4 linked regions of the Homo sapiens genome follow. The main gene of each other region encodes a partner of the protein of the gene in region 3 in a complex. Each region holds a gene or a part of one and is shown on either strand. Other genes may lie near its edges.

Region 1 (8,253 bases), on a different chromosome or scaffold from region 3:
CGGGTTCAAGCGATTCTACTGCCTCAGCCTCCCAAGGAGCTGGAACTACAGGCACGCACCACCATGCCCAGCTAATTTTTGTATTTCTTTTTTTTTTCTAGTAGAGACAGCGTTTCACTATGTTGGCCAGGCTGGTCTCCAACTCCTGACATTGGCTTATGTTCTTTTTAAAAAGTTTGATGGTGAGTAGATTTTAATTAAATGGTGCTTTTTATTGAAATTTTCTTTAAAAATAAAACTCTGTATTTGTAATGTAAGTCAGGAGTAAATACAGATTTTGGATAAATGTCTACACTTCCTAAGTCAACTCTCAGAGTCACTTTTAAGATCACTCTAGCTGTCTGGGGTATCCAACTTGGGAAATTCAGAGCCTCAGTATTTAGAAAGAAAATCCTTCCTCAACTTTAATCTGATGAAAAGTAAATCTTTCCTTGAAAGTCGATGATATGCCACAAAGTTAAATGCGCCATCTGGCAAAAGGCAAATTAGAACAGGTTCAAAATTTACAACTGTCTACAACATTCAACTATTTGGTCAAAATAGAACCTAATTGGCAATTTTGACTTTCACACCACACGAATGTACCGAGAAGTTTGGTATTCCCCAGGGCAATTTTTTTTTTAGCGCAAATGACAAACACAATAACCTAAATTTAAAGTCAATTCTAGATTCATAAAGGCAATGAATATTCTAGGTTCTCAGAACAATCTATTCTCGTATCAGAAAAACAGAATGACCATAACATCATTTGGAGTCAATTAAAGTTGAATCCTGAAGGAAAATAATAAAGAAAATATGTTCAGTTCTTATGAATCACACATTTAATAACAGCACTTTTCAAAGTCAAAGTTAGTTCCCATTTTCCAGGATGAAAATGACTGTTAGTCATTAGGTGATCAGCTATTAGGTGATTAAAACAGCTATTAATTAATAAATTGGGGGTAAGGGTCTCAAATTTGGTGCCCCTCAAAAGGGTGGTAACATGATTGACTAGTTTTAAAATTACATAAAAGTTTCAGTTATTTATGTAGATAATTCAGAGATAATATATCTCAGAAAATCAGGACCACCATCTACTCTTGATGCCTTAACACAGAAAAACAGCTTAGTATGGAGTTCAGTCTAGACTGGTTAGGTGCCTAGCATCCCAGATCCCAGTACCTTCCTGGCTCTTAGCATCATAAAGTTAGGTAACTCAGTTCCCTCTGAACGGAGGCAAGCGCCAGCCAAAACAACTTCAGTAAGAAGACACGGTACCTTGGCGAACAAATCATAGCTGAATGTAAGACACCAATCTGCAGACACTGTAGTAGCAAGGTACTGATGAGGAACTGAAAGGCCATCTTTTCCTTATCCTCTATCTGCCATGTGTGATTCCAAGCAAGTCTTTTAACTCTTGCAGTTTCCAAGTCAGCAAAAAGATAATTTTGCCTGTCTCACAAAGTGCTGCAAATATTAATGCTTTCAGCACAATAAAAATGCTATAGATTTTTCAAATAAAATATGAACATAATATGAACATAAAAGGCAACTTCAATGTGCACTTAGAAAAGATTAAATTCTATTAACTACATCTTCAAAGGCAGAAAATATTTACAGCAATATATTTTAGTCAGATGGAACATCTTGTTATACACAATACACAATGAAGTTTACTATTGTGGAGATACTGAAAAGTTTTTCTGTGTTAAGCTTAGTAACTACAAGAAGCAAAATATTTAGAGGCAGAAAAGTTGGAGACAACTAAAAAAATTAAAAACAAGAATAAAACCAAAATACTATCTTCAGTCTTCTTTTGCTGAAGGACCTACTAACTAACGTACAATTTTGAGGAGCAAGAAGCAAATACATAATGATCAAAACTGCTAAACAATATATTCAAGGGGATTCAATACTACATACAAGACCATAAGAGACCTTGAACGCTTTAATGTACTGTACAAATTGTGACAATGCTCATCTCCACATCACAGGGCTTTTTACACATTGTGTTTCATCTCTACCAGCTTATTTCTGACAAACAATACACAAAAATATTTTCAGCAAACATGACTCAACGTTGAATTGGAAAAGCTAGACATAAAAGAGCCATGTAAAAATAAGCAGTGCCTGGGACACACTATTATTATTACTTTTATCCTTTAGGAGTTAGCAATTCTGGTAGCTTGTCCAAATTCTGCCAATGAAAAAGTACTAAAAATACTGAACTTTTAAACCATGTGTCTGCTTAAGATACCTTAACATATAAAAGCACTGTAAGAAACACACCTACCCAAACCCTTAAAATGTAACCTCAACCTTATCACAAGCCAGCTTTGCGGACTGCAATCTTTCCCCGACTTGGCTAATCAGATGCTACTTGAATGAATTAAAATGTATCCATCTTGAAAAGATTTTTCGCTCATAGTTTTAAATTACGGTTTTAAATGTCCACAACATGTTTATCTATCGTAGAAAACTTAATGGTCAAAATTTTAAAATCCAAAAAACGAGAACTTGCGATGGATCTATGACGTCCACTTATCTTCCGAAGCAATGGAATTAACTAAAACTAGATAAAATAGGCACAAATACAACTTCCAATTGTAACATACTCATAGAAGTATTTCCCTACCAGACTAAATAATAGTTTTTTTGTTTTGTTTTGTTTTTTTTACATAATCACAGTTATGCTAGTCCTTGATAATGTTAAGCTAATCCTTTGGGATCAAACAACCAAGTGACTTTCTTATCAAAACAAGAACTCGGGCTTTTCCATTACGTGTACACAGACTTATGAAAAACGGTGAAAAAAAAATCTAGTAACTGTCTCACAGGGATCCAAGGTAAGACTTGGATTTCACAAAAATCTGCAATAATTCAGTTTCTTTCCTCAGAATGCTTATACTCATTTAAAAATGGAAGTCTACAAGAGAACGTAGTAACATCCTACTGCGTGACATGAAATGTAGGGAACGAATGTTTCTTTTTTTCCTTGCTGAACTCGTTAGTGCCGCCAGGTCCTCAGGAGAGGCCCAAGGGAGGTGAAGGGGGCGACCCCGAGGCGAGGAAAAAACGAGCGCCGCCGCTCAGCCCGGGGAGGGCATCCTCCGGCCTCCGTGAGTGGCCGGTCTCTCCGGCCGCCAGAGCACCCCTCTCAACCCGGGCCTTGGGGACGGAGGACAGAGATAAAATGGCCTCGAAGCGGCGGAAGTGTTCCCCGCAGGCGGGAAGGTAGAGCGGCTCACGAGAGACCGGTGCCGCACCAGGCCCGTGTGGCCTTTCGGGCCCTGCCCGCCCCTTACCCGCCGGGGGCGGCTGCGCATCAGCCCTCAGGCCCCGGAGGTCCCCCGCGTCCGCTCCCGCCAGCCGGCCCGCGCCTACCTCTCCAGGCAGAAGCCGCGCCGGCGCCACCGGTCGCATAGGCCGAGGCCGCGCTGCTTGCCCTGCCGCCCGGGCCCCCCGGGCCACCGCGCAGCCGGACAGCTCTGCCGCCGGCCCCGCCGCGCTCCTAGTCCCGCCGCAACCCCTGCGCTCCCCTTTATTTGTGGGTCTCGCTGCCACAAAATGGCGCTGAGGGAGGAAACCAGGCCCCGCCGCCCGGCCCCGCCCCGCCGCACGGCTCCGCTCCGCCCTGCCCCGCCCCACAGCCGGTCCGAACGCGCCGCAGGCCAGCGCCACTGCCTCCCGCCTCCCGCCTCCCGCCTCCCGCCAGCCTCCCCGCTCCGCCATGTTCGCCTTCTGGCCCACTCACAGGAGAGTCGCCTTTCAGGCGTGGCCGCAGTCACTCGCCCGCCGCCGAACCCCGCCAGGAGAGGAAAGGTGAAGGGAGGGAGGCCGTCGGCCTAGCCCGATCGGGGCCTCGAGGCACAATGGAGCAGCTGCTCCCCGGTAACACTCCCCGTCCTTTCCCAGGAGCCTGGCGCGAGCTCCGCGGGCCCCGGAGCTCAGCAAGCTCAGTAAGGGAAGCGGCCGAGGGGAGGGGCGGGCCAGCGAGGTCGGAGGTCAGCCCCAGGGCATCACGGGAAGGGAAGGTGGAAGTACTCGCCGGGGCCACCTGCGGCTGCGGGGCTGCCTCGTGCGGAGGGATCTGGGCGAAGGCGGCGCGTGATTGGCCGCTCTGTGTTCGTGACGCTCATCCGTGATGCTTCCGCGTGTCGGAGGACCAGGTGCCACCTCAAGAGAGAGGCCGTGGGCGGCGAGCCGCGGGCGTTTACTCTTAGCAGAAGCTCACCTGTAAGTTTTGAGAACTTAGAAACCGATGCCTTCCCTCTCATCAGTCGTGAGGCGCAGTCTCCTGGCCGCTGGGTTCGTTCCTCCTTGACATCTCTGGAGACGCATCGAGGAGCTATTGTTCTCTGGCGTCGGAGGTTGCGCTGTGTCCGCGGCGTTGAGGGCCCCTTGCTAACTGGAACACGGGGAAGGCGGCCCTGTGAGGTTTAGTGAACTCAATCAAAGAGGTCCTGCAAGTGGAGTAGACTCCCTGAAGTAAGACTGCCATCTGGACCGCCGAGTAATGGCGGTGTTACCTGGAGAACGTGAAACAGTCTCTAAACACTTACTAGAAGAGCACGTAATTCTTTTGATTGGTCTGTCCTTAGCCGGCTTTATCAAACCTGTTCATCCCCAAAGGAGTGTCTTGTAGTAAGGTGATTTATTAGGATAAGATTAAAGTACATTCCAGATGGTCGTAGTATATTTCCAGTGAATCAGATCGGTCTGGAGAAAATCTTTGCAACTCGTATCACAAGAGCTCTCAAAAATTGAAAACAAAAAGTGCAAAAGCCAAAGGAGAAAATGGGGAAGGACATGAACAGATGATTCTCAGAAAAAATACCGTAATGGTCTTTAAACATAGAAAGTCGCTCCACCTCACTTACAATGGAAATACACGTTGAAATTACCTTTCCTGGTGGGAGTGGAAAAATGGTTCAAGTTCCACGGAGTACAAAATTACTTGTGTTTATTCTTATACCTTGCAGTTATACTTCTAACCCTAACCTTATTCTGAAGGTGCAGCTCCACACATGGAAACAATAGGTATACAAGGTTATTGCAGTGCTATTTGTCATAGCAAAAGTTAGGGATAACCCAAATATCCGTTAATAGGGAACTGATTGGGAATGGTGCATCCATACAGTAGAACACAATGCAACCATTAAAAAGATTCAGGAAATAATCGTGTGTTGCTTTGGAATGAGTCTCAGGTTGTATTAAGTATTCACTTAAATATTTAAGTGTAGTAAGTATTCACTGTATTCAAAAGCAAAAATAAGCATATATGCTTTTATGTATTTACTTAAATACATAAAAATATATATTTATATTTAATATGAATATTTATGTGTATATGCTTATTTTCGGGGAGGAATTGGAAGGATATCCTGGAAACTTAACATTTTTAGTTGCCTATAAAGAGTGGGGGGTGGAGACAAGATTTCTCTGTCTTTGAACTTTTAGTTTTACATAGCCAAAAAAGTAAATAAAAAAGGAAACAAAGTAAATCCTAAGGTTGAAAGCAAATTGAAACAAATGAACTTAACTGTTAACTAATATAACTAAGATACACAGAAAAAATAATTATTCTTTGGGTTTTTTTTTTTTTTTTTGAGACAGTCTCACTGTGTTGCCCAGGCTGGAGTGCAGTGGTGCAATCTCAGCTCACTGCAACCTCTGTCTCCTGGGTTCAAGCGATTCTCTCAGCTCAGCCTCCTGAATAGCTGGGATTACAGGCATGCGCCACCATCCCCTGCTGATTTTTGTATTTTTAATAGAGATGGGATTTCACCATGTTGGCCAGGCTGGTCTGGAACTCCTGACCTCAGGTGATCCGCCTGCAGGTTGGCCTCCCAAAGTGCTGGGATTACAGGAATGAACCACCACCACTGGCCCCTCTGAGCTTTTGAACACAGTACTCTAGTAGTGTATCTGTGTTGTGATAGTGTAGTCTTTCCTTATATGCAGGAGATTGGATTTAGGACCTTCTGCGAGCATATACAGAAATCTGCATACTAAAGTCCCGGAGCTGAGCATAGGGAAAGTTGGTTCTTTGTGTAGGTGTGTTTTGCATCCCACTGTACTTCTGTTTTGTTTTCTTCCTTCCTTCCCTTTCCTTTCTTTTTCTTTTCTTTTTTTCTTTCTCTCCCTCTCTTCTTCCCTCCCTTCTTCCCTCCCTCCCTCTCTTCCCCCCTCCCTTCCTTCCCTTCTCTTGCTTTTCTTTTTTTTTTTCTTTTTTGAGAACAGGGTCTGACTCTGTCGTCCAGGCTGGAGTGCAGTGGTACGATCATGGCTCACTACAGCCTTGACTTCCTGGGCTCAAGCAATCCTCCCATCTCAGCCTCCCGAGTAGCTGGGACCACAGGCATGTGCCAGCACATCTAGCTAATTTTTTTCTATTTTCAGTAGAGAGCTGTGTTGCCTAGGCTGGTCTTGAACTCCTGGGCTCAAGTGATCCTCCCACCTAGCCTCCCAAAATGCTGGGATTATAGGTGTGAGCCACCGTCCCTCGCCCCACTGTATTTTTCATCTGTGTTGGGGTGAAAAAAATCCACATATAGGTGGACCCTGGCAGTCCAAACCAGTGTTGTTCAAGGGTCAACTGTGTATTCTAAGGATGAAAAAAGTGCACAGGAGCTTTCAGCTTCACTGATTTATGATTAATGGTAACATTGTTACTGTGGTTTTAAAACTCTGTACTGTATATGGTAGGATAACATAAGTATTTTAATGTTACTATATACAAAGATGTGCAGTGTGTGAGAGAATGAGATACAAACACAAGATCAAAGAAGTTCAGAAAAGGGCCGGGTGGCTGATGCCTGTAATCCCAGCACTTTGATAGGCCAAAGCGGGAGGATCACTAGAGTCCAGGAGTTTGAGACCAGCCTGGGCAACATAGCAAGACCCTGTCTCCATTTTTTAAAAAATTTAAAACAATTTTTAAGACGTTCATTCATCCGGGGGTGGGGGTGGAAACTAATATAAAGAATTTTAAGAAGTTCAGAAAAAAAAAGTCTGTAGTATTGAGTTTAAACTGGAGGGCTGGGTGCAGTGGCACACACCTGTAATCCCAGTGCTTTGGGAAGCCAAAGTGGCTTAGGAGTTCAAGACCAGCCTGGGCAACACAGTGAGATCTTGTCTCTACAAAATACAAAATAATAAAATAGCCAGGGGTGGTGGCCTGTGCCTATAGTCCTAGCTACTTGGGAGGCTGAGGCGAGAGGCCCAAATGAGCCCAGGAGTTTAAAGTTACAATGAGCTGTGATCTCACCAGTGCACTACAGCTTGGGCAACAGACCCTATCAAAAAGAAAAAAAAGTTTCAACTGCAAAAAAAAGTCCTAGTTCTGTGGACTGAAAGGGCCTAGAAGCACTAGGGTGACCAGTTGTTCTAGTTTGCCACAAACAGAGGGGTTTTCTCTGGATGCTGGACTTTCAGATTAAAACTGGAACAGTCCTGGCTGAACCAGGATGTATAGGCATGGGCACCCTACAGTAACAGTGAGCACATCTGACACTGAGATCTTGGTTTCTAAATTCCATTTCCCACTAAAAAGATCCAGAGCTCCTTTGGAGAACTGGCTGATTCCAGCTCTGGGACGGGAAAGGTACAAGATGAGCCAGGTATTTCGTTGTGCCTGAATGCAGAGGAAGTGCTTAGACCAATGAGGCTATGCCAACTGTAGTTAGGAGAACAAACAACACTAATCCATAGTGGTAGATAGCAGATCAGTGGTTGGTTAGGAGGGGAAGAGAGAAGGAATTGACTGGAAAGGAAAATGGGAGAACTTTTGGGGGTGATGGAAATGTTCTGTGTCATGGTTAGTGGGAATGTATACGTTTGTCAAAATTCATCAAATTGTGTCACTGTAAAGAATGCATTTTATTGCAAACCAAATGAGAAAAGCAAAGTCGATTGAGAACTTGCTGTAGCAAGGGAGTCAGCCACCATCCCTTATGTTTTAGCAGAGGTTCAAAGGCATGCAGAGGAGTGGGAAAGCTTTACAGTGGACAAAAGGAAAGGTTTCACAGGTATGCCTGATTGGAAGCTGTTGGCATGGGGAAGCTGGAAGCTAACTACAAGTTGGCATCCTATGGTCTTGGTTAAAGGAGCATATTTGGCTTTCTCTGGATGGGCATAAGCTAGAAGTGAGGACAAAAAGTAGGGAAGCTGTCAAGTTTTAATCAAGTCCTGGCCATTTTGAGCTGATTGTCATAGAAGTTATTATTTAGCTTCCTGGATTGCTACCAGAGATAGCAGTCTGACTTCCTACAA
Region 2 (7,649 bases), on a different chromosome or scaffold from region 3:
GTTCTCTTAATTCAAAATTTTATCATGATACTGATTTTCTCGTCCAATACATAGGCTAAGTGGTTTCTTACCACATTCAACTCTAGTGACTTTCAATAAAAGCAGGATAGCTCTTCATAAATAGTTGAGAAGCTCTAAAGTGATTTTGGCTATTTTCTTATTACATGGAACAAAGAATGGTTTGGATTTTTAACAGTAATATTTTAATAGCTCCTAAACAGGGGGATGAAAAGGAATCAAGTTTGCACCAGTCCAAGTACCTACAGTAATATGATAGAAGCACTCACCACCATTTCACACTATCACTCCCATGCTTTTAATAACAAGCATTTCTCACTAGAAATATTGCATTAACACTGGACTTTCAAACTGCTAAATGTAGAAAATCACTTGCCTGACTTAAAACAAAAAAGTTTATTAGTTATTTTTGGCCAGTCAAGGTTGAAACGGCCATTTTGTTATTTCTAACTTCTGCTCTAGGGTTCAGAAATGATTTTGCATCTGATCATTCAAGATGAGAATTTGTTTCACCTGTACCTGACAGAATAAAATGGTAAATTAGCAATCAGATCACCCTTTGTCAAAAGAAGTATGTTCTAAATGTATACACTACAAACTATCTAATAAATGATATCTGCATACTACATATTTCATGTTTTATTATGCACCATTTTAGTGGGGAGGAAAAACTTCACAGGGATTTATTCAAAGGATATAAATAATATCCTAAGAATGTTGATTTATACATATGAGTTCTGTATAAACTGTTAAGTGGTCATCTTAGCTAAACTATAACAAGCCCCTATAATGTAAAAGCTGACTCGAAAGGCACCATGTAAAGCACTGAAATCCACAATTTAGCTGTTATTTCCTCTTCTCCAATACAAAATTATCTGGTAGTCTTCACTGTTGACTCCATGATAAAATGTTCCAAATTCAGACTGCTTTACCGACAAAAGGAATAGGAAATAAAAGTTTTTAAATTTCAAGTTAGAGGAAAAATCCTATCACACAGCAATGAAACCTGAGCAAATGCAAATTTGTGATTACAAGAATATGTCCTTCATTAATATATTATTCAAATTCCTCCATGGCATTCAAACTGTAGTTGAAAATCCTATAAACAAGAACCCACTTAAACACAGCATCAAACTCTACCATGAAATGAAGAATTACATAAAGCCTATTCAGCCCTATTCAGTTTAAGACAATGAACAAAACAGAACACATTTCATCTAAAGAACACCATTTAAACCCATTTAAACAGTTCTATAAAATAATGTTACTTAAGATCAGTATGTGTGGTGCATATGTGATTCCGACCATTCAGTAAAAAAGCATTAATGAGTAACAGCATTCCCCCACCAGCTTGAAGCCTGTAGAGTTGATTATTTTGGCCATCTCTTTCCAAATAATTAGTAATGTCTTTTAACATTACGAACAAATATATCTTAGTACTAGAATTCCAATGTATTTTGGTGCTCCTGAGGCTGCCTAAAAATGAAAAGGCATCCAAGTGAAGTGCATTGTATACTTACTATACCTCGAAACCTCAACATTTCAGTGCCTAAAATGTGAAATAATTCTCTATCATTTAACAGTCTGCCTTACAGCAAATTCTAGTAGATTTTTACTTTCAGGATTTTATTATAACTTTGGGAAATTAGTGGTAAAACATATGGTTTAAAAAACAGTATGTGGCTGCACTTAAATTCACATAAAAATAGCATTTTTACAACCATATTGAAATTTAATCCTTTTACACAGGTTAACAAAATGTATCACAAGAAAAACTAAACGTTGGGTTTAACAAAACAATACTTTTGAAGTAAAACAATGAAAAATTTTTTCAAATTTTTTACAAATGGTCACCTCTGGGTCAATTTACTAAACTAGGGGAACAAAGAGATGTTAAAATATAGCTGTGCTCAACTGAGCCACTTATCTGTACTACAGTATGGTACTTGAAATCAATCTTAAGGTCAAGATTTAAAACCATTTTAAGAAACAAGACCCTATGTGTTTTATACTACCTCGATAAGAGGTACTCTTCCTTCCCAAAACAGTCAAAGCTTAAAAGATTGACTACACATAAGTTTTTTTCCCCCTCATATCTTCCATTCAAAATACTATTATCATTGGTAATACGGTCTATATCTTGTCTGATCTGGATGATGTGGTCCAGGAAGTGGGGTTTGAGAAGGCGGACCCTGCAATCGTGGAGGTGGTGGTGGCCCTCTTGGTGCAGGCCATATACCAGGACTCATTCCCCCTGGTTGTGTAAATGGAGGGCTCAGAGTTCCTTGATCTTCAGTGAACTGGGGTAATGAGTTAGGATTATAATGGTGAGGAGGGGGTGCAGTTACAGGTGGACCACCATGTTGAGGTGGGGGAGGTCCTGGAGGAGGATGATTCATATAAGGTGGCATCTGGGCAATAATATGTCCAGGGGGAGGGGTTATTGGTGGTGGAGCAGAGGTCATTGGTGGAGGTGGAGCTTGGCTATATACCAAGTGAGGAGTACCTGCAGCCTGGGGAGGATGTGGCATTGGATGGCTTATTGGTGGTGGAGGAGGTGGGGGTGGTGCATAATGTTGCTGTGGAGGCATAATATGATGAGGGTGCGATACCACTGGTTGACCCTGATATTCAGGATGATGGTGAGCAGGTGCTGGGGCAGGAGGTGGTGGTTCTCTAGCACCTGAATTTGAGTCATCCTGAATAGGGACGGTTATTAAATTGCTGTGTTTTCTTGTTGAAATACGAAAGGTTTCCTGACTGACCGATCGAGGTGGAGGTGGAGCCATGGACAATTCTGCTGGAGGAGCACGAATATCCTCATGTGGCTGATTATAGTGCTCATGTGGCACATGTTGCAAAGGAGGTGGTGGCATCATGATGTGCTGCTTTGGCGGAATATGGCTCATATGGTGCTTGTCTGGTGGCATTATAAAACGCTCAGGGATTTCAGTTGGTGGTGGGGCAATAGGAGGATGAACATTTTCAAGTGAAGCACGGGTAACAGGTTTTCCAGCTCTCATATGGCGATGGTTGATATGAGCCTGTAAGTCTCTCTGAGACAAATATGTTCTCTTGCACCCTTGAACAATGCTACACATGAAGAGAGAACCTCGTGTACACTGCTCAATTCGCTGCACAGGATCACTACAGCTAAATTAGAAGGGAAAGAAATGTGATTTACTAAAAGAGAATACAAAAAATTATGTAATTTTCAAAAATATGCTTGTTTTTAAAATTTGACTGTTACATAAAACATAGCAAAAGTCCACAATTAGAAGTTACAGTTATTCTACGCAAACCTTTAATCTTCCCTACTTTGTTGTCTGTTAGCCATTAAGATAGGCATTTCTGTCAACTTCAGAACTCCTAATATCAAACGGTATGTTTCAAGAAGAGACCTCATTCTTCCCAAGGCCTAGAATTTATCCAGTTTTCTCAAACAATTGTACCTTCTGCATCCATTTGCCAAAAAACCCAGCAAGAAAAAAACCAACGGGTAGATTACTTACAATCATGGAATTCAAACTAGTATGGTATTATTGAGTGATAACTGTTTGTTGAGCAAATAATACTAAGTGGAAAACAGTAAGTAGAAGACATTGCAAGGACTACAACAAGTAACATCAGCCTCATCATTAGGGTTCTTAACATTAAACAAACAATTTCAATCCAAGCCTTGACTACTAAAAGTCCTTTAAAGAAGGGTTTTTTCTGAACTGTCAGACAAATTTACACTTTGCTAACTTTCTAATTTGTGAGCACTAAATTTAACTTAACATTTTCTTAAAAACTCAGGGTCAAAATTATAACTATTTTTCATTTACCATATTTAATCCATAATTGCCATTACAGCTTTCTTGACACAGTGGGGAAAGAGGACTGAAATAGGAATCTGAAGATCTTGGGATCTGGTATTGGCTCAGTAATTTGAAGTCATTGAACCATTTTTGAGTTTGTTTCTTCATTTATACAATGAGGTTAAAGTATCTACCTACTTCACAATGTTTTTATATCTATTTCATATTACCTAAAAGAATATTAATATCAAATGAAACAATGAAAGTGACAGTATTTAATCCCCAATTAAGCACTATATATAAATATATGTGTGTGTACATATATAAGCAATTATCATTGAATATGTGTGTCAGGTCATTTGACACTATACTAAATGGCTCTATACTCTTGATTTTGAGTTGTGTCTATCTTTCCATCCTTACTATAAGGCTGGCACTCCTTATTGATGTTATTATGCTTCCCTTTAGTGGCCATCTGGCACACTTTTTGCTTCTAGTTCACTGTAAACTCCGAACTATCTCCACCTTAACAAGATGTGAAGCACTTTCTCTTGGGTGGTGCTTAAGAACAGTAATATATACTGTTTAACTCTGACTGCCATTTCTTCACTTCCTGATCTGGGTCTGTTAATCCAGATAGGCTTCTGTCCTAAAATTGCTACTAAGGACCACATAAGTGAGGTGTGACATTTAGTACTTTGTTACATTTAAGTCCATTAGTAAGGTTAGTACATTAGAATATTCAGTACATTAGTTACATTTAGTACCTTGGGAAGTAATTTCTTTAAACAATAAGTACCTTTTAATTTCCTTTTAATACTTATACAAAAGAGGAAACCTTTAAAAGTCCTCTAAATAATGTTTTATCACATCTGAAATCCTTTATCCCGATGAAGCAATTAAATTTACTATGTAACTTAAAATGAATGTATACCATGCTGAAAAATTAGGCCTGAGAGAAAACACCCAAAAAACAAGTGATATGTATTTCTAATGTCTTAATTCTTCTGAATTATAATTCTATAAACAAAATATTTTTTAAATTCATAGAACAAATGTTATAATCTGTTACTTTAAAATGCTAATAAAAACATGCCAAGAGAATTAGTTGTCACTGAGCTGTTAATAAATCACCCCTTTCTCTCCTGGTGACGTCAAATTTTCCTACACCATAAAAGGGAATCATTGCTGACAAGTGTCCACAGCTTTGTTATCAATCAATACCACAAATCTTGGTATAGCTTTAAGCACAGGTTATAAGTGATCTAAGAAGCCTATGGCTACTCCAAGCAAGTATCTTTCATTCTTTCTTAAGCCTTCCTTATCAACGATTCTGAACTGATATAAAAATTCTTATTCTGTTTTCTTCAAGACCATCCCAAAATGGACCTAGCTTTTTATAACTTGTTTGAGACTATGTAATGATGGTGTTCTAAGACATACTCCAAATACAATAATCAGATTTGAAAGTAACAAGAGCTTATATATACAGTGCTTACTATATGCCAGCTACTATATATATGTATCTGTGTACATATGTTATATATATATAAAACCTCATTTAATCCTAAAAATACCTCAAGGAGGTAGGTACTATTATCAGTCTCATTTTATCAATAAAGAATAGCCTATGACAGTAAAACAGCTAATAAATAGCAGAACAAGGATTCGAACCCAGGAATTCTAATTCTGGAGTCTTTGCTCTCAATATATCTTAATACTTCTTTAATGTCCCATTAAAAAAAGTAACTTTTTTGTTTATAATAATACTTCTATAATGGCAAACAGATTTCATTTTGACCAATTTGAGTTGACTGATAGTGGCTACCTTGCCCTATATTAAAGAGAAACCTAACACAAGCTGGGCTCACAGAAAAAGATTAGCCATGTCTGTATGTTTCATCTCCTGCCTGATTTACATCACTCCCTAACCTTTAATCCAACTTATAAATCATTGCACTAAAACTTTATTATTTAAAAAAGGTAATGATAATCTTATCTTACCCTGGACACATCTTATCTCCCTTTTTTTCATGTAAAATAGCACAGTCATAGCAAAAAACATGCTTGCATGGAATCTGTAAACAAAGACATATTACAGTTAAGCATATTAGAACTTATAATATTTTTAAAATATATATATATAGTAACCTATACATAAGGCTTAGAAGACACTTGAGAATACCTGTTAAAATGAACATTTATTAAGTACTAATTATAATAACCTTTTTCAATCACAAAGCCTTTTGAGAACATGACAAAAACTATGGCTCTTTTCCCAATAAATGTACACACATGCATTTGCTTATACTTTCTGGAGGTGTAAACCCTATAAATTTCACCCATGGTCCCCACACGTTTTTTTCCTTTTTTTTAAGAAACAGATCTTGCTCTGTTGCCCAGGCTGGAGTCCAGTGGTGTGATCACAGCTCACTGTAACCTCAAACTCCTGGCTGATGTTCCCACCTCAGCCTCCAGAATAGCGAGGAACACAGGTGTGTGCCACCACAGCAGGCTAATTATTTTATTTTATTGTACAGACAGGGTCTCACTAAATTGTCCAGGCTGGTCCCAAACTCCTGGCCTCTGGCAATCCTCCCACCTCAGCCTCCCAAAGCCCTGGGATTATAGGTGTGAGCCACCACACCCAGCCCCCTGCAGGTCAAAAACTCCTGAAGAATACTTTTAATTATGTGTGTTTTTTTTTTAATCTTGTTTCTCCTGAAACTATTCCAATGCAGTAAAATAACAAGTATGTCCTATATTTAACGTAAGCAGCATCTTCCTCTGGTAGTTTCAAGTTAATTAACTAATAAAAATCTAAAAATCAATCAGAAGGATACATTAAATGATGTTAGAAGCACATTTTTAAATTCACAGCCTGTTACTATTTCTTTACTATGATGTTCAGCAAAGCAACACTGCATAATCCATGCCATCTACCATCACAGGTATGTTATTGAATTCAATTTTTTTTTTCTAAAGGCAAATGCAAAACTATCTTTTTTGGAGGGAAGAAATGTGAAAATTACTATAAAATTACAGTTAGGATTGTAAAATTTTTTTAATGATTATAATTCAATTTTCAGAAATAATAATTACTATTAAGCCTCTCTGAGCCTCAGGAAAAAAAGAGAAATTATAAATATTATTAATGCAGTTTTATGTAAAAAATTGTGGCCTTCAAAAATAAGCAGTTTTGTTCTATTTATTAAGAAACAAAAATTTCCTTAATAAACTAGAATAACTGTAAATTCACTGGTATCAAACACTCCAAAGGAATTAGTTTTCAGAAATTATTCTAATTTTCAGTTTTATTTAATATTTTATAAGAATTCAACAATTTGTCAAGATAATCATATTAAATTCATAGTATTCCAATACTTCCCTTAGTTATTTCATACTTATTTAAAATTTTGCAAACTTAGTCATTAAACAATGATAAACCTATCTAAATTTCAGAACCCCACCTCTATGCAAATGCTTACTTACAAAAACAATATTTAATTATACTTACCATTCTCCCATAGATTTTAATAGGCAATCCACACTTGTCACAGAAATGAACTGGTGTATCATCCTTTTCACCTAAGATGTTTATCTGTTGAAATGATATAATTAAAATTACCTTCTTACACAATTCTAAAGATTGTATCTACACAATGAATTGGTCAATATTTTATAAAAGTTGTTAAAACAATTAGAAATAGAAGCCTCTTGGTATAATCTCCATTTATTCCCCACCATTAGTTGTGATACCATTAGTTTTTCTTCTTAGTGTTAACAGTTATTGATTTTACTGAAAATTACTTCAAATTATTCTTGAAAATA
Region 3 (7,188 bases):
TTCAGTGGAAACTGCTTTGTTTTCTTTATCCCCAAAGATAATGTTCTTTTATTTGAGACAGAGAAAAAGTCTTTGTTAGAAAAACAGTCCTCTTACACAGCAAGAAAGCATCAGCAGAAGGGAAAAGAGCTGACAAGGGAAGGTTATGAAAAATCTCCTGGGAGTTATTTCCAATTATTAAGCAAGCAGCAAGGGAAAGGGACTATTTATTGAGCACTTATTATATGCCATACATTAGAAGCTGAGAAAGCATACCACTGCCCTTATAAAGCTAACAACAAAAACTAAGTCATAAGAGCCCAAGCAGTGGTGTAAAAGCTCAGGACTAGGTGAGTAGACAAATGCAGGTATCAGATGAAAAGGCAAGCTTTCTGTTTGAATCAGGGTAAAGGAAAGCAATCAGAACTGGGAAAGGTCCCCAAAGAGGTGCTGGTGCCATCCTGATCCACTATCTTGTCAGCACCATCTGAGGAAGGATATGGAGTTAAGATTCAAGGAGGTAGTTGGCTGATGGGCTTACATTTGTGTTTACATTTTTCTAAATTTTGCTTTGGAATTATTTTTATAAATATATTTTTAATCATGCATTATCCTTTAATTGAGCTCAATAGTAGAAAAGAAAGCTATAATCTTGAGTTTTTATTTACCATGCTATAAACCTAGCTTCTTAGACAAAACAATAACCCAACTACCCATGTAGCTTTCATGAATTATGAGCAATATTATTACATTAAAAATCTTTTTATTATTAAGGTACCCACCACAATACATAAACTATAAAGTGACAGCTAATTCCACAAGACATTTAAGCAATTACTTTGATCATTTAACCAGCATAAACTACTAAACTGGATATATCAGAACAAAATTGTGCTTTGAGGTTTTGTCCACTTTCAAAAACAACAAAATAAACACCCAGAAAAGGCAGGATAATGATGTAGCCATTCTCTTATGATAACAACAGTTATAAAAATCTGTACAGGTAAGGATTATCTAAAAGGTGTATTTTGTGACAACACAAGCCTAGACCTCCACATTTTCCCCCATTGGATAGATGAATGGCTTGCAATGACATCATTATACGGCAATTTTAAAGTATTAGTTCACATTTTCAGTCTACTGTGTGTTCCAAAGTAAGCCAACTACTTAATATGCTTTCAAAGGTGATAGTTTCCTGTCTCAAGCAAGTAACCTTTTTTCCTCTTTTTTAAGTAAATGTGGTCACACAGTATACAGCTACAATGCATGCATAATTTAAATATGCATGTTGGCCAGTTGCAGAGGCTCACGCCTGTAATCCTGACACTTTGGGAGGCCAGGGTGGGTGGATCAGTTGAGGTCGGGAGTTTGAGACCAGCCTGGCCAACATGGTGAAATCCTGTCTCTACTAAGAATACTAAAATTAGCTGGGTGTGGTGGTGGGCACCTGTAATTCCAGCTACTCAGGAGGCTGAGGCAGAAGAATCGCTTCAACCCTGGAGGCGGAGGTTGCAGTGAGCCAAGATCTTATCACTGCCCCCCAGCCTGGGTAACAGAGACTCTGTCTCAAAAAATAAAAATAAAAAAGAAAATATGCATGTGGTATTTTGTTAGCCAAGTTAAATTTTTTTTAGTTCTATGAATGCAAATGTAAGCAAAAGTCACAAACTATTTTGTCAACCTCTAAAATGTAGGGAAATGCACATGAACATCTCAGACTTACCCTCTTCTCTCTGTGGTGACAATTAGCTGGAGCTGACAAGTGATGTCCACTTTACCCAGGGTATGAGGTCTCCAGCCCCACTCTTCTCTCTATAGTTGCTATGGCCTGAGACCAAGAGTCAGTGGCCATTTACTAACGCACTCTATGCTGCTCTGCTCTGCTTTTCTTAGAAAGGAGTTGAGAGAACTCATCAAAGTGAGAAAAAGCACAGATAGATGGATGAAAGTAAATGAGTGAAAATATTTCCATGTCGTTAATATGCAAACAATGTGCCTAAAGAAGACAATTATCCCATTAAAAAGTTCTTGGCCTGCTTCTCTATTAATATAGAGTCCCATATGCATTTTACATTGTTGACTTCTAGGTTGTCAATTATTTAGAAGTATTTTTGGAAAAACCTACCTTATCTGATTTCAGTTTATTAGCACCTTTAGTTACAGAAACATGAACTCTAACATACACTCAAACTGATCATTTTAATATTTTATCCAGTAGTGGAAAAAGGGTTTACTGGAAAAGGATGTCCCAATTATCTAGATTGAATGAGGTAGTTTTTCTCTGTGCATTACAGCTAGCAATATTTATACGAGTAAATGATAGAGTTATTGAGAGCAGAAGCAATGTGGTATTTCCAGAAATGAAGTCTTCAATGGAGTCAGTTTACTGGATAAATGTTCTAATCTTTTGAGAAGTCCTAGATTTATGGCCTCAAAACTAACTATATATACACAAGAAAAGTTCAGCCTCTATTACCCAACATCAAAGAGAGGATAATGCTAGTCACACATGAACCCTAAGATTACAGGATTGTTCTAAGAAAGACCTTCTGCATAAGCAAAGGTTTATGTTTCTAATAGATCACAAAATATGAGACACTTTCAGATCAAAGACTACTGTTTAGACTAAGTCCCAACAGGGCTTTCATTTTGTCATGTTAATAAGGATTATATTAAACAAATTAGTAAAGTCTGAAACTATACTTCAAAGGCTAAATCTTATGTTCTAAATTCAGGATGAAAACAGTACAGGTTTTAAATTAAGCGCTGTAACTAACTGAAAGATAATTTAGCAATTAAGATGGGTAGAAAGTATTTTAAAAGACATGAAAAGGAGTAACTCCTAGTAGCAGCTGTGACACCCTGATGCACAATATAGCTCCCAAGTATCCCATCTTTATACTCCATTAACTTAAATGAAACTATAGCATATCACTGACCTGGCCTCAGAATAAGGGAGATAGGAAATAAGGGCTCATAAAGTGGCTCTACTACTTACCAGAGTAACAGAGCAGAACTGCTGCAGTAGTGATCCCTCTCAACTCTGGATCTGTGAGTTGGTTGCCATGCCACACTCCTGCTTGATTCTCACTTCCCAGGTTGACACCTTGACCTCTCACACTGTGCTGTTTCATGATGACCGTATTACATTCTGACTGCCATCATCACAATTCTGTGGTCTAATCTGATTCATTTGTGTTTAGGTATGGTATTCCACACCATAAAATCTGTTCTCCTGACATCATCAACTACCTGCCCTCTTCTTTCTCCACAGTGAAGAAGAGTAAAAAAGTATTCCTACTCAATCAGTACTTTGGGCCTCCTAATCCCCATCCTCTGAAAGGAGGAAGGTCAGTGGGAAAATGGTTCTCACTGGAAATAAATAACAACAGTTGGTTTGGAATACCATGAATTATAATTCTGTAAAAACTCAGACATGCTGATCTTCTAACTTCTAAACTAGGTTATTTCACAATAATTAGCTTCTATCCCCAGTAAGGAATTAGTGCATAAAGCAACTAAAAATTTATTTCTATACAATTTTTTTTTTTTTTTTTGAGACAGAGTCTCACTCTGTCGCCCAGGCTGGAGTGCAGTGGCACAATCTCGGCTCACTGCAACCTCCGCCTCCTGGGTTCAGGCAATTCTCCTGCCACAGCCTCCCGAGTAGCGGGGATTACAGGCGTGCACATGCCACCACGCCCAGCTAATTTTGTATTTTTAGTAGAGATGGGATTTCTCCATATTGGTCAGGCTGGTCTCAAACTCCTGACCTCAAGTGATCCACCCACATCGGCCTCACAAAGTGCTGGGATTACAGGCATGAGCCACCATGCCCAGCATTTCTAAATAATTTTGTGGAATGTAAGACATGTAAATATAAAGAAGACCAAAAATTAGAAGAGGTCAGAGTAATGAAATTTCATTGGAAACCTTTCCTCAATGAATACACAGTCATTGCAAAAACAACACCTCAACCTTTACTGAAAGTGAAAGTTAGCAAAAACTAGTGAATCAATTCCATCCTGCTATTAAAAAGGCCAGATTCATTGTCAAAGGGATAAATTCTGGGTCTTACATTCTTTTTCCACCATCTGCTCTTTTTTAAATAACTTTTTCCTAAATATGGTAGATCATGGCTCCCCTTAACTTTCAACCGACAAAGCAGCCATACCTACCTCTTTCTAAGATGAAATTGTGACACTGATCTCACAGGTGCCTATGCCATGTAAACAGCAGGAATGTCACCTTGGGTAGGCCCAGGGTATGGAACGTAATAGAGAGCCCTGTGTATAGGACAGGGTCACTCCTTAGCTGATACTTCTAAGGACCCATCACAGGCAAGTGGAATTTCTCTATCCTGACTTCATTCCCAGGTCAATGCTGACATATAGAGTTCTAAATCTAGATAATTTGTAATTAGTGAAGTTGAAAATATACCATAATTTCAGCAAAAAAAAAGGGGTCTTGTACTAGATAGTACTAATGGGTTAAGCGAGTTAAATTAATTAGGCTTTTAAGGATCTCAGCCTTATTTCTTCTATCACTCATTCCTTATCTTCAAACTGAGTCTTTGGTGGATGTAATATAATCTCATCTTAGGTATATATGAGCACAGAACGGCCATTAAAATCCATCACAGACCAAAAGAAGAGACTGATTTTAGGTCAGTCCTTTTTCATTTTGTAACAACAGTAATTCTACTTATAGAAAACAGACTCTCAAATCTCAAAAGTTTAAAGTTTCATTAGAAAAATCATAAAAATAAGAAAAGTATTCATCAAGAATGATAATAGTATAATTTCATTATCAAATTCATTTAAAACATGAATTACAGTACAGCAAGAGAAGTGACAGCATAAAGTCTTATATAATTTTAAAAACAAACATCACACCATATGGTTTTAATAAAAGGCAATTGCAGTTCCAATTTCCAAGCTGTATCCTTAAGTTGAGGGTTTTCCGTAGTTGGTTTTACATTAAACTATCTCCATAACAAGTTTAAAGGTGTATGTCATTTCATCACCAAGTATTTTAGTCCCAAAATGTATAAACCAAGCATCTGATAATGAGGTATCTTGTCGCTGCCTCTCTTTTATTTGAGGAATATAAAATTTAAGGTCAATCCAAGTTCAAGTCCACACCACAGTGCTATCTAGCACATGAATATTTGTCCTCCTTTGCTTCTTAGGAAGCGTGATTAGGAGTCATAGCCACAAAATTGAGATTATGATGATAAACTTTTTTTTTTTTTTTAAGTCTGCCTGCTAAGTTCTATCTCTTCTTTCACCCACCCCTGGAATCTCCACCTCCCCTATCAAATTTAGATTTGGGAAGAGTTTTTGTTCAAAGTCTCTTAATTTCTTCAGTATTCAAATTATATCTGAGTTTATTTAAAACTTAAAAAAAAAGAAGAAAAAAGCTTACCTCTTTTTATTGTTTCATCAAGAAAATGTTAAAACCCTGACAAAAGCTTACCATCTTTTCCAACTCTATTCTATCAAGGCCCTGTCAGCACTAGCATGATACCACAGACTGGATCTTTTTCCATTATTTATTCCCAAAAATTAGCAAAATCCTTTGTAATTAGCTGAAGTCTATCAGAATAAATTCAGTCTCTGAAGATGAAGCTACTTGAGTTGTTCCATTCTGTTCACGCACATAACAAAAGGCAGAATCATTCATTTATCCTGAAAAAAACCAGACAGTGTGTGTGACAACTGCAAGCAAGGCTCGCTAAGACATTCTTGCAGCTCAGAGAAATTAAAGCAAAGTGCAAGCTGGAAGTGAGTTCTAAAGTTAAGTCTCCCACTTGAAATTTAATTACAATAAAGAAGGTTAGAGGAGGATGAATAGGTTCAATGTCTTCAACAATTATCGAGGTGGAAAGCCACCTCTGTGTGCTCCTCCACGGCCCCCTCTAAAGCCACCTCTTTCTCCTCGGAAGTTAGATCTATTTCTTTCTCGTCCACGGCCAGCAGAAGTTCCACCTCTTCCTCCACCTCTGGGAGCTCCACCTCCTCGGTCAGATTTAGATTTGGGAGGAGGCGATTTTGGTCGAAGTCTCTCAATTTCTTCTGTACAACCAGTCAAGTAGGAATTAGGAGCACTGAAATAGGATGCATATGTTTCTGCATTGTAGTTGCTATTTGTAAGCGTTGGTCCAACTGTGAGCCAGCCTGAAATGGAGGAAAAAAAGATTATACTTTTTATTTGCAATTCTCTCTTATTAATTCTTTAGAAGCTAGTTCAAATCCCCAATGCATTCTTAAAGATGTCCCCATCATTCATCCAATACTGATCTCTTTTACAGAATGGCACTTAATTGTGGTCATGTTTTAAAGATTTCACAGGTATATATCTTGTTTCTCCTCCTAGATTGTAACTTTTGTAATATATCCTCCTCATCCACGTACTATCTTTTGTGAGAATAGAACTTAGAGAAAAAAAATCCCATACATTACACTGAGTTTGGGTTTAGTGAAACTGTAATAAATTATATATAATCTTCCTATTTATGTAAATGGTGCCATTTTCTGATTAAAATCTTGGAACCAACTTTTGCTCTACACTTGCTAACTAGAAAATATTCTCAGTTGATAGGTCTGAGAAATTCAACCACTACCATGTTACTCCCACTCATTCCTATCTTTCCATTTCTGCTGCCACCCTCAAATTTAAGCCTTTATTTTTTTTTACAAGGTCAATACCCTACCATATAACACATGTGTAACAGACACACATATATACTGTAATGATCTCCCAACCTATAGCTTCTCCTCCCTCTAAAAGTGGAAAGCCTAAAGCAAAGCTTAAAACATGTCACTTCTCTGCTCAAAAACCTTCCAACTGTTTCCACAAAGCCCAAATTCATAAATATAAAATCTAAGATCTTTTACAATGATGGCTGAATGAACTTTCCAATAACATTTCTCATTAATGCTTTTCATGAACCTCTAAGGAAAACAATGAACTACTATAGTAACTGCTTCTATACTAACCCCGATTTTTGTGCCCATATTATTTTCTTTTCTATCCTGTCAACCTGTTAAAAATCCCACCCTTCAACATCCAATTCAAATATATTTCTTACATGAAATGAAAATTATTTCTTCTTTCTCAGAATTTCCACTGCACATTATACTTCTGTAGGTAAACAGCTATTTTGCCAATTATATTGCTAGACAACTTTTCTTGTAATAAGGATAT
Region 4 (7,649 bases), on a different chromosome or scaffold from region 3:
AGGTACCTTTTTCCTTTGCTGAGTATTATATGCTGAGTTTTGTGAGTCCTCCTAGAGAATCTTGGTGCTCTTGGGGAACCTGACATAGGACAATAGAGCCTTGCCACCACTTCAAAAACAAACCCTCCAAAGTACAATTATTTTTCCTTTCAAAATTCACTCTCCTTCCTAATTTACCAGTTTCTGTCAATAAAACCACAGCTCCAATTGCTACCCTGGCTAGAAATCTCTAGCTTCTTCTCACTTCCCTTCGCCTACTAGGTCCTGTTGCCAAGTCCTAGTACTATTATATAATATAATGGCTATTTCACAATCTCTGTCACTATAAGCACAATATTTGCCTTTCCATTACCTGTTAAGGGCAAAGTACTTAAAACCCAGTACCTAGAAACCTCAGACTATCTTATCTTCCTAGTAACTCTAATTTCTTTTCCATTGCAATACATCTTGCAACACAAAATCTGAGAATATTACTCTGATCATATCAGATCTGCTACTCCAAAATATTCAATACCTTTCCATATTCTACAAATAAAATCCAAATTCCTTAGCACAACCATTCTGGGCCCTTTATTTCCTCTTGTCTGATACCCAAATATACCTCCTCCATATGGTGGGAAAAAAACACTCAGTAAGTATTTAATTACTAGCTTCTTCTCAGTGACTGAAAACATCACCTATTCTACTAAAAATAAAGTTGTTAGTAAGAAGTATTTAAATTTCTTTACAATCTCCAAGACTACAAATGTATTATATTTGCATACTTACAAGATTCCCTTTCTCCTGCCCAAAACCAAACTCCTACACTTGTACTCTTGTCCTCATCTCCCACCAAGCCTTGCCCCAGGAATTGTTATTGTTTACTCCTACATCATAAACATCTCCCTCTCCACTGACTTTTTATTATAAATGAGTCATTATTCCCAGCCTACAAATATGCTCAAGCCTCTCCCACTCCTAAAAAATAAAAACCTTCCTTTTTGACTCCAACATCTCCTTCTAGCTGCTGCCTTGTCTCTTACTTTTTCTCTTAGCCAAATTTCTTGTTTTGAGACACAGTCTCACTCTGCTGCCCAGACTGGAGTGCAGTGGCACAATCACAGCTCACTGCACCCTTAACCTCTCAGGCTCAAGCAATCCTCCCACCTCAGCCTCCTGAGCAGCTGGGACTACAGGCGCACACTACCATTCCCAGCTATTTTTTTTTTGATTTTTTATTTTCTGTAGCGGTCTCCCTATGTTGCCCAGGCTGGCCAAATTTCTTTTTTGAGACGGAGTTTCGCTCTTGTCGCCCAGGCAGGAGTGCAGTGGCACGATCTCGGCTCACTGCAACCACTGCCTCCTGGGTTCAAGCGATTCTCCTGCCTCAGCCTCCCGAGTTAGCTGGGATTACAGGCATGCACCACCACACCTGGCTAGTTTTTCTTTTTTTGAGATAGCATCTCACTCTGTTGCCCAGGCTGGAGTGCAGTGGCCCGATCTCGGCTCACCAGAACCTCCAACCTCCCGGGTTCAAAGGATTCTCCTGCCTCAGCCTCCCAAGTAGCTGGGTTTACGGGCACATTCCACCAAAGCCCGGCTAGTTTTTGTGTGTGTCTGTGTGTGTGTGTGTTTTTGTTACTTGTTTATTTATTTTTTTGAGACGGAGTTTCGCTCTTGTTGCTTAGGCTGGAGTGCAATGGTGAGATCTCAGCTCACTGCAACCTCTGCCTCCCGGGTTCAAGCAATTCTCCTGCCTCAGCCTCCCAAGTAGCTGAGATTACACCCATGCGCCACCATGCCCCACTAATTTTGTATTTTTAGTAGAGATGGGGTTTCTCCATGCTGGTCAGGCTGGTCTTGAACTCTCGACCTCAGGTGAACCACCTGCCTTGGCGTCCCAAAGTGCTGGGATTATAGGCGTGAGCCACCATGCCTGGCCGGTGTTTGTTTGTTTGTTTGTTTGGAGACAGAGTCTCACTCTGTAGCCCAGGCTGGAGTGCAGTGGCCAGATCTTGGCTCACCGCATGCTCTAACCTCCAGGTTCAAATGATTCTCCTGCCTCAGCCTCCCAAGTAGCTGGGATTACAGGCGCCCACCACCACACCCGACTAATTTTTGTATTTTTAGTAGAGACAGGGTTTCGTCATGTTGGTCAGGCTGGTCTCGAACTCCTGAACTCAGATGATCTGCCTACCTCAGCCTCCCAAAGTGCTGGGATTACAGGCGTGAGCCACCACACCCGGCTCTAGTTTTTTATTTTTAGTAGAGATGGGGTTTTGCCATGTTGGCCAGGCTGGTCTCAAACTCCTGACCTTAGGTGATCCACCCACATTTCTTAAAACAGTGGCCTACACCATTTCAAATCCTTACTGGCCAGTGGTTTTTCATCTACACTTCCTCTCCCACTGCTACATTAAACTACTTTTGCCAGAGCCCCATTTGCAATCTATGTTACAAAATACATGATTTCCTATCCTTATCTTCTGAACCTCTGCACAGTATCACAACAAACCATTCACTGGTTCCTAAAACTATTTGCTTCCTTAGTTTCTATTCTCTCCTGCTTCTCATTTTGTCTTTCTATTCCTTCTAAGTATCCTGCCTAAATGCATTCTCTGCCCATCTCTTACATATTACTGCTCCCCAACCTCCCATCACTGACCCATTGATTTCCCAGTACACAATCTGTGAGGGTTGCCAGTATCTGGCCTCAAGTGTTCACTTTGGGCCTCTCTACCTTTCTTTCTCAGGGTTCCCCCCAAAGGGATTAAAGGGTGCTCGGACCACAAGCAGGAACAGCTCAGAAGCATAAAAGAGTTAAAAGTTTCTTGTGGGCATCCTTGAACCAAAGGGGAGAGTTGGTAGACGAATGCCCAGCCTGAATGTTTTAGGAGGATAAGCAGGAGATACACTTTAACCAGTTCTTCGGAGGATCCCCAGTAGGATGAGCCCCAGCTGTCCACAGCAATAAGTATAATAACACTTCCTTTACTGGTTTTTCTCCTTATCTTACTCTCTTCAGGCATTTCTGCTTCCTAGGATAATCTTTCAAAGAACCTGCACCCAAGACTTTGACTCAAGTTATCCTTTTAGGAAACTCAAAACTAAGACAAGGTGTAACAGTTTCAGCTAAAAACAGGAACTTGGATAAGTGGAGGTTTTAGACTGGACACATATCCCATCCCCTGGGAATGCACTATGCTCCATCCAAATCAATGAAAATATTAATCACAAAAATAAGTAATAAAATAATTCAAATGCCATTTTTCCATTTTTATGTTAGGAAATTATTTACAGGCAAATGGTAAGAAAGAAAGTCTCAAAACAAAATAAAAAATCTACTAGGGATGCTGGTCCTAACAATGGCAAAACTGTATCAACAGATGAGAGAGGTAGATGGCAGAAACAAGTAGTAATGGAAACTTAAAGACATCTTTAACCAGCACTGTAAAATTAAGCTAGTAAAATATAATTTTAACTTACAATGTATTAAGAGTAGTAAGTACAGATGGGTTCACACAGAAGAGCTCTCCTTCCTACACCATTCCTTTGTTACCACCTTCCCAGAAGCAAGTCAGCAGTTTCTCATTTATTCTTGCTCATAGACATGCTTATACAAGCATCATTGTTAATTACTAAAATCTTTCACTGAAGTTCCCATTTTTGCTTTAAGAACTAACACAATATAAGCTCACCCACAGTAACATACTTCTCAGTTCCACTACTAAATAACCGTTTTGAAATATCAAGTATCCTTACACATAAATAAGTTACCTACAATCAGATAAAAAGCAAAATCAACCACATAAAATTGTCTCCAATGATTTGTGAAATTTATTTCCCAAAAGGCAAACATGTCTTACCTAAAGAGAACAGGGTATGGATCATCCCTCTCTGGAGGTCCAGTAATTCGTGCCATCGTTGGGAAAGACTTAACAGGTTGTTGGATCATTGTATGAGGGGCAGTTTCCATTAAATGAAAAACTTCTTCTAGGAGGTTAATAAGCCTTTCTATTTCCCCTTCACTTATATTTGAGGATTCCAAAAGATCCATATCCATAGAAGCTTCCACCTCATTTTCATATTCTGGGTTTGTTCTCTCAAGTCCAGCATCTGTGTCGTGATCAGGTTCACTGTGGTTAGGAAGAGATGAAGTCTTCTCTGCTAAATGGTCACCAAGTCTTTTAATCTCTGACAAGACTTCATAGAAATGGCATTTTTGGAGAATAGCTGAACCAGCAGTAACAACCCTCACAGTCTGATCTAAAAGTATGAGTTCCAGAAGCTTTTGATAACCACTTTTTTCATTCTGCCTACCTCTTAAAAAAGCTTCCATTCCTTCTGTCATACTAATGACACTGTCCAAAGCTTTAAAAGCATTTAACTTAAGAGAAGATGATACGTGATCAGCAAACAGAAGTTCAAATAATCCACTGATCACTCCTGCTTGTAGCAGTCCTGTAACTCCTTGAGCCCCACATTCTGCTAGTGAGGACACTAATTTGGTCCCAGCTTTGAGCTGTCGAACATTTAAGGCGATAGGTTGGCGAAGCGCTACTTGTAAATTTAAAGCTTGCATGGTCCAGTCTACCAACTGGCCAAGGGAGTCTTGTTTTGTGTTTTTCAATTGCAAATAGCTTAACCCTTTTATTATTAAACTTGGAATTTCTTCTAAAGCTGTTACCCATTTTGCACCTCTATCTTCTCTATACAAATCTAAGAGTTCTGTTAACTTCACTGAGGCTTCGATTGCCCCTGAATTTTCTTTATCTGGACCTTGATCCTTCATTCTACTGATTTCAATTTCAAAAGTAGTCTTGTATGGACAACTGAAGTATAAGAGTGGTACAAGCTCCCTGTCATATGGATCATATGTCATAGGAGGAACTGAAGCTAAGTCTTCAGCAGTGTATTCAACATCAAAGTTTGGATACTTAAATGTTTCACGTTCCAAGTCAGCAATTCCATCTTCATCACTGGAAATTTGTTCATAACCATCATCCCCTGAAAATTAGTATGAATAATATTTAAGTATTACATCATCTTTGTCTAATACATAAATTCTGATTGAACAAGAAATAGTTTTAATAAAACATTAAAAATGATTTCCTCAACAAAACCAACTTCTGCCCCAACATCTTACCCACAATTTTACAACATTTTATAATTTCTAATAGAATTATGGACAAACTTCTTTTTTTCCTGAAAGGGGTGAGACCTGAAAACTGGACAAACATTTTAAGCAAATTCCTCTGTATCTGTTCAGTTTTACAACTAACTGTAACAGATATCTTTTCCTCACAGAAATATAATTAGAAATGCCTCAAAGTAACAAAAATATCTATCTCAGGAGGAAAGAAATTATGCTTGTCCTCTTGAGAGATTATTTTTAAGACCAAAAAAAACTGGTTGTTTTAAGTTAAGTAAGAACTAATATCATCAGGTTAAACCAAATACTTTCAGCAAAACCATTGTAGATTCGTTTTATAACAATTTCACATTCCAGAATTTTTATTTCTCTGCATTTACCTATCACACAGTTTTGTAGGTCTCCATTATATTTTGATAGAAAATGTGTCCATTTAAAATATGGCTGTGCACAGTGGCTCATGCCTGTAATCCCAGCACTTTGGGAGGCCAAGCCGGGCAGATCACTTGAGGTCAGGAGTCCGAGACCAGCCTGGCCAACATGGTGAAACCCTGATCTCTACTAAAAATACAAAAATTACCTGAGCGTAGGGGTGCGTGCCTGTAAGCCCAGCTACTCAGATGGCTGAGGGACAAATCACTTGAACCCTGGAGGTGAAGGTTGCAGTGAAACAAGATCGCACCACTGCGCTCCAGTCTGGGTCATGGAATGAGACTTTGTCTCAAAAAAAAAAAAAAAAAAAGAAAGAAAAAAAGAAAACTGCCTGCCTAACATTTAACTACTTTTGCCAAATACAATAAATCTAGAAATAATTATTTGATAATCTGTGAATGGGGAAAGTTAAAAAAAAATCACATGATAATCTAGCTATTTGATATTTTTTAAAAGAGCCCCTATGATTCTGAAATGACATTCATTTTTACTATCTGTAGAAAAAAGCCAAGGCAGATTATCTGTTATTCTGCATAAATGCTTTAACATTAAATGCCATTTCTTGGGCAAATTAAGAGCCAATTAGCTTGAGTATCTCTCACTTTTTGCTTTCAAAGGAAAAATAAAGCCTAATTAAAGGACTGTATCATACTGCCACATGTACTTGTGTAATTGAGATTTTTCCCTTGAATTTTTAAAAATAATGTAGCATTTGCTAAAATATCTAGGTGGCAGACATCTTTAGGAATTCCACCTAGCTTTACCACTCCTTACTCTGAAAACAGCCACCAAATCCCTAACCAACATGTATTTGTTACATGACCCTGTTTTCCTGGCAAAAGCTGATGCTGTCAAAGGGAAACTCATACTGTAGCAAGTCAAACAGAAAACTGAGATACAGTCAGGCAGTTTAGGCTGGCTGGTTAAACAGGGGAGATTAAAGTAAACACACAAAGCAGAGGAGAGATGGAAATCTCATTTCTAGTCATGCCTTGAGGCCTAGCTACATTCTGACCCTGGGTTTCTTGGAACCCATTTATCTTTGCTAGAAATTCTTTTGCATTTTTCAAAGCTGTATCGAGTTAGTTTCTAGTACTTAAACCCCAAAGTCCTAGCTAACATAACCCACCTTCACCTTCTTCATCCTCTTCACCTTCTTCCTCTTCATCTTCCTCTTCCTCCTCAGGAATACTGTCTACTGTTCGTCGATCATCCTCATCCTCATCCTCTTCTTCCTCTACATCCACATCATCTTCATCTTCTTCTCCTTCTTCTTGTTGTTCCTCTTCTACTTCTCCTTCATCAGAATATTGCCCTTCCTGGGGAACAGAATTCCGATCAGGAGAAATGGGCTCAAAGTAATCTTCTCTATGAGGAGCATCCTCTTCCTTGTCACCAGACACTGAAAAATTGAGATTTAAGGCACAGACTATTTTAATGGTTTAAATGACAAAAGGCAGCAAGACTGGATATGGCAACTACTTAATATTTTGGTTGATATAGTTTATAAATACCCTTAAAAAAAAAGAATTACTCACTGTTTAAAAAATATTGAGTATACACTGTACAACTTCTACAGTGAGCAATAATAAAGTATACTGTTAAGCCATTCCCTTTCTTTTTAGCTTTTAAGTAACTATACACGTTTTTGTCTTTTCCAGTACATACTTATTTTTATTTTATTTTATTTATTATTTTTATTTATTTTCTTTTTTTGAGACAAGAGTCTCACTCTGTCGGCCAGGCTGGAGTGCAGTGGCATGATCTCGGCTCACTGCAACCTCCGCCTCCCAGGCTCAAGCAATTCTCCTCCCTCAGTCTCCTGAGTAGCTGGGATTACAGGCGTGTAACACCACACCCGGCTAATTTTTGTATTTTTAGTAGAGATGGGGTTTCACTATGTTGGCCAGGCTGGTCTCGAACTCCTGACCTCAGGTAATCCACCCACCTTGGCCTCCCAAAGTGCTGGGATTACAGGCGTGAGCCACCACGCCCGGCCTATTTTTATTTTATTTTATTTTTATTTTTAATAGAGACAGGGTCTCCCTATGTTGCCCAGGCTGGTCTCACACTCCTGGGCTCAAGA

What was found.
Region 1: METTL14 (region 3) and WTAP share a complex: the UniProt entries of both Homo sapiens proteins name them as parts of the WMM complex.
Region 2: METTL14 (region 3) and CBLL1 share a complex: the UniProt entries of both Homo sapiens proteins name them as parts of the WMM complex.
Region 4: METTL14 (region 3) and VIRMA share a complex: the UniProt entries of both Homo sapiens proteins name them as parts of the WMM complex.

What each region holds. Positions count from the first base shown.
Region 1 is NC_000006.12:159,722,814-159,731,066, reverse strand, and holds the start of WTAP (pre-mRNA-splicing regulator WTAP), read right to left. Parts: upstream 3,562-8,253; 5' UTR 3,364-3,561; intron 183-3,363; exon of another isoform or gene 102-182; intron 1-101. UniProt on the Homo sapiens protein: Associated component of the WMM complex, a complex that mediates N6-methyladenosine (m6A) methylation of RNAs, a modification that plays a role in the efficiency of mRNA splicing and RNA processing.
Region 2 is NC_000007.14:107,753,665-107,761,313, reverse strand, and holds part of CBLL1 (E3 ubiquitin-protein ligase Hakai), read right to left. Parts: intron 7,420-7,649; coding exon 7,336-7,419; intron 5,897-7,335; coding exon 5,823-5,896; intron 3,172-5,822; coding exon 2,136-3,171; 3' UTR 1-2,135. UniProt on the Homo sapiens protein: E3 ubiquitin-protein ligase that mediates ubiquitination of several tyrosine-phosphorylated Src substrates, including CDH1, CTTN and DOK1. Targets CDH1 for endocytosis and degradation.
Region 3 is NC_000004.12:118,708,968-118,716,155, reverse strand, and holds the end of METTL14 (N(6)-adenosine-methyltransferase non-catalytic subunit METTL14), read right to left. Parts: intron 6,159-7,188; coding exon 5,854-6,158; 3' UTR 726-5,853; downstream 1-725. UniProt on the Homo sapiens protein: The METTL3-METTL14 heterodimer forms a N6-methyltransferase complex that methylates adenosine residues at the N(6) position of some mRNAs and regulates the circadian clock, differentiation of embryonic stem cells and cortical neurogenesis.
Region 4 is NC_000008.11:94,522,378-94,530,026, forward strand, and holds part of VIRMA (protein virilizer homolog), read right to left. Parts: intron 6,966-7,649; coding exon 6,693-6,965; intron 4,987-6,692; coding exon 3,846-4,986; intron 1-3,845. UniProt on the Homo sapiens protein: Associated component of the WMM complex, a complex that mediates N6-methyladenosine (m6A) methylation of RNAs, a modification that plays a role in the efficiency of mRNA splicing and RNA processing.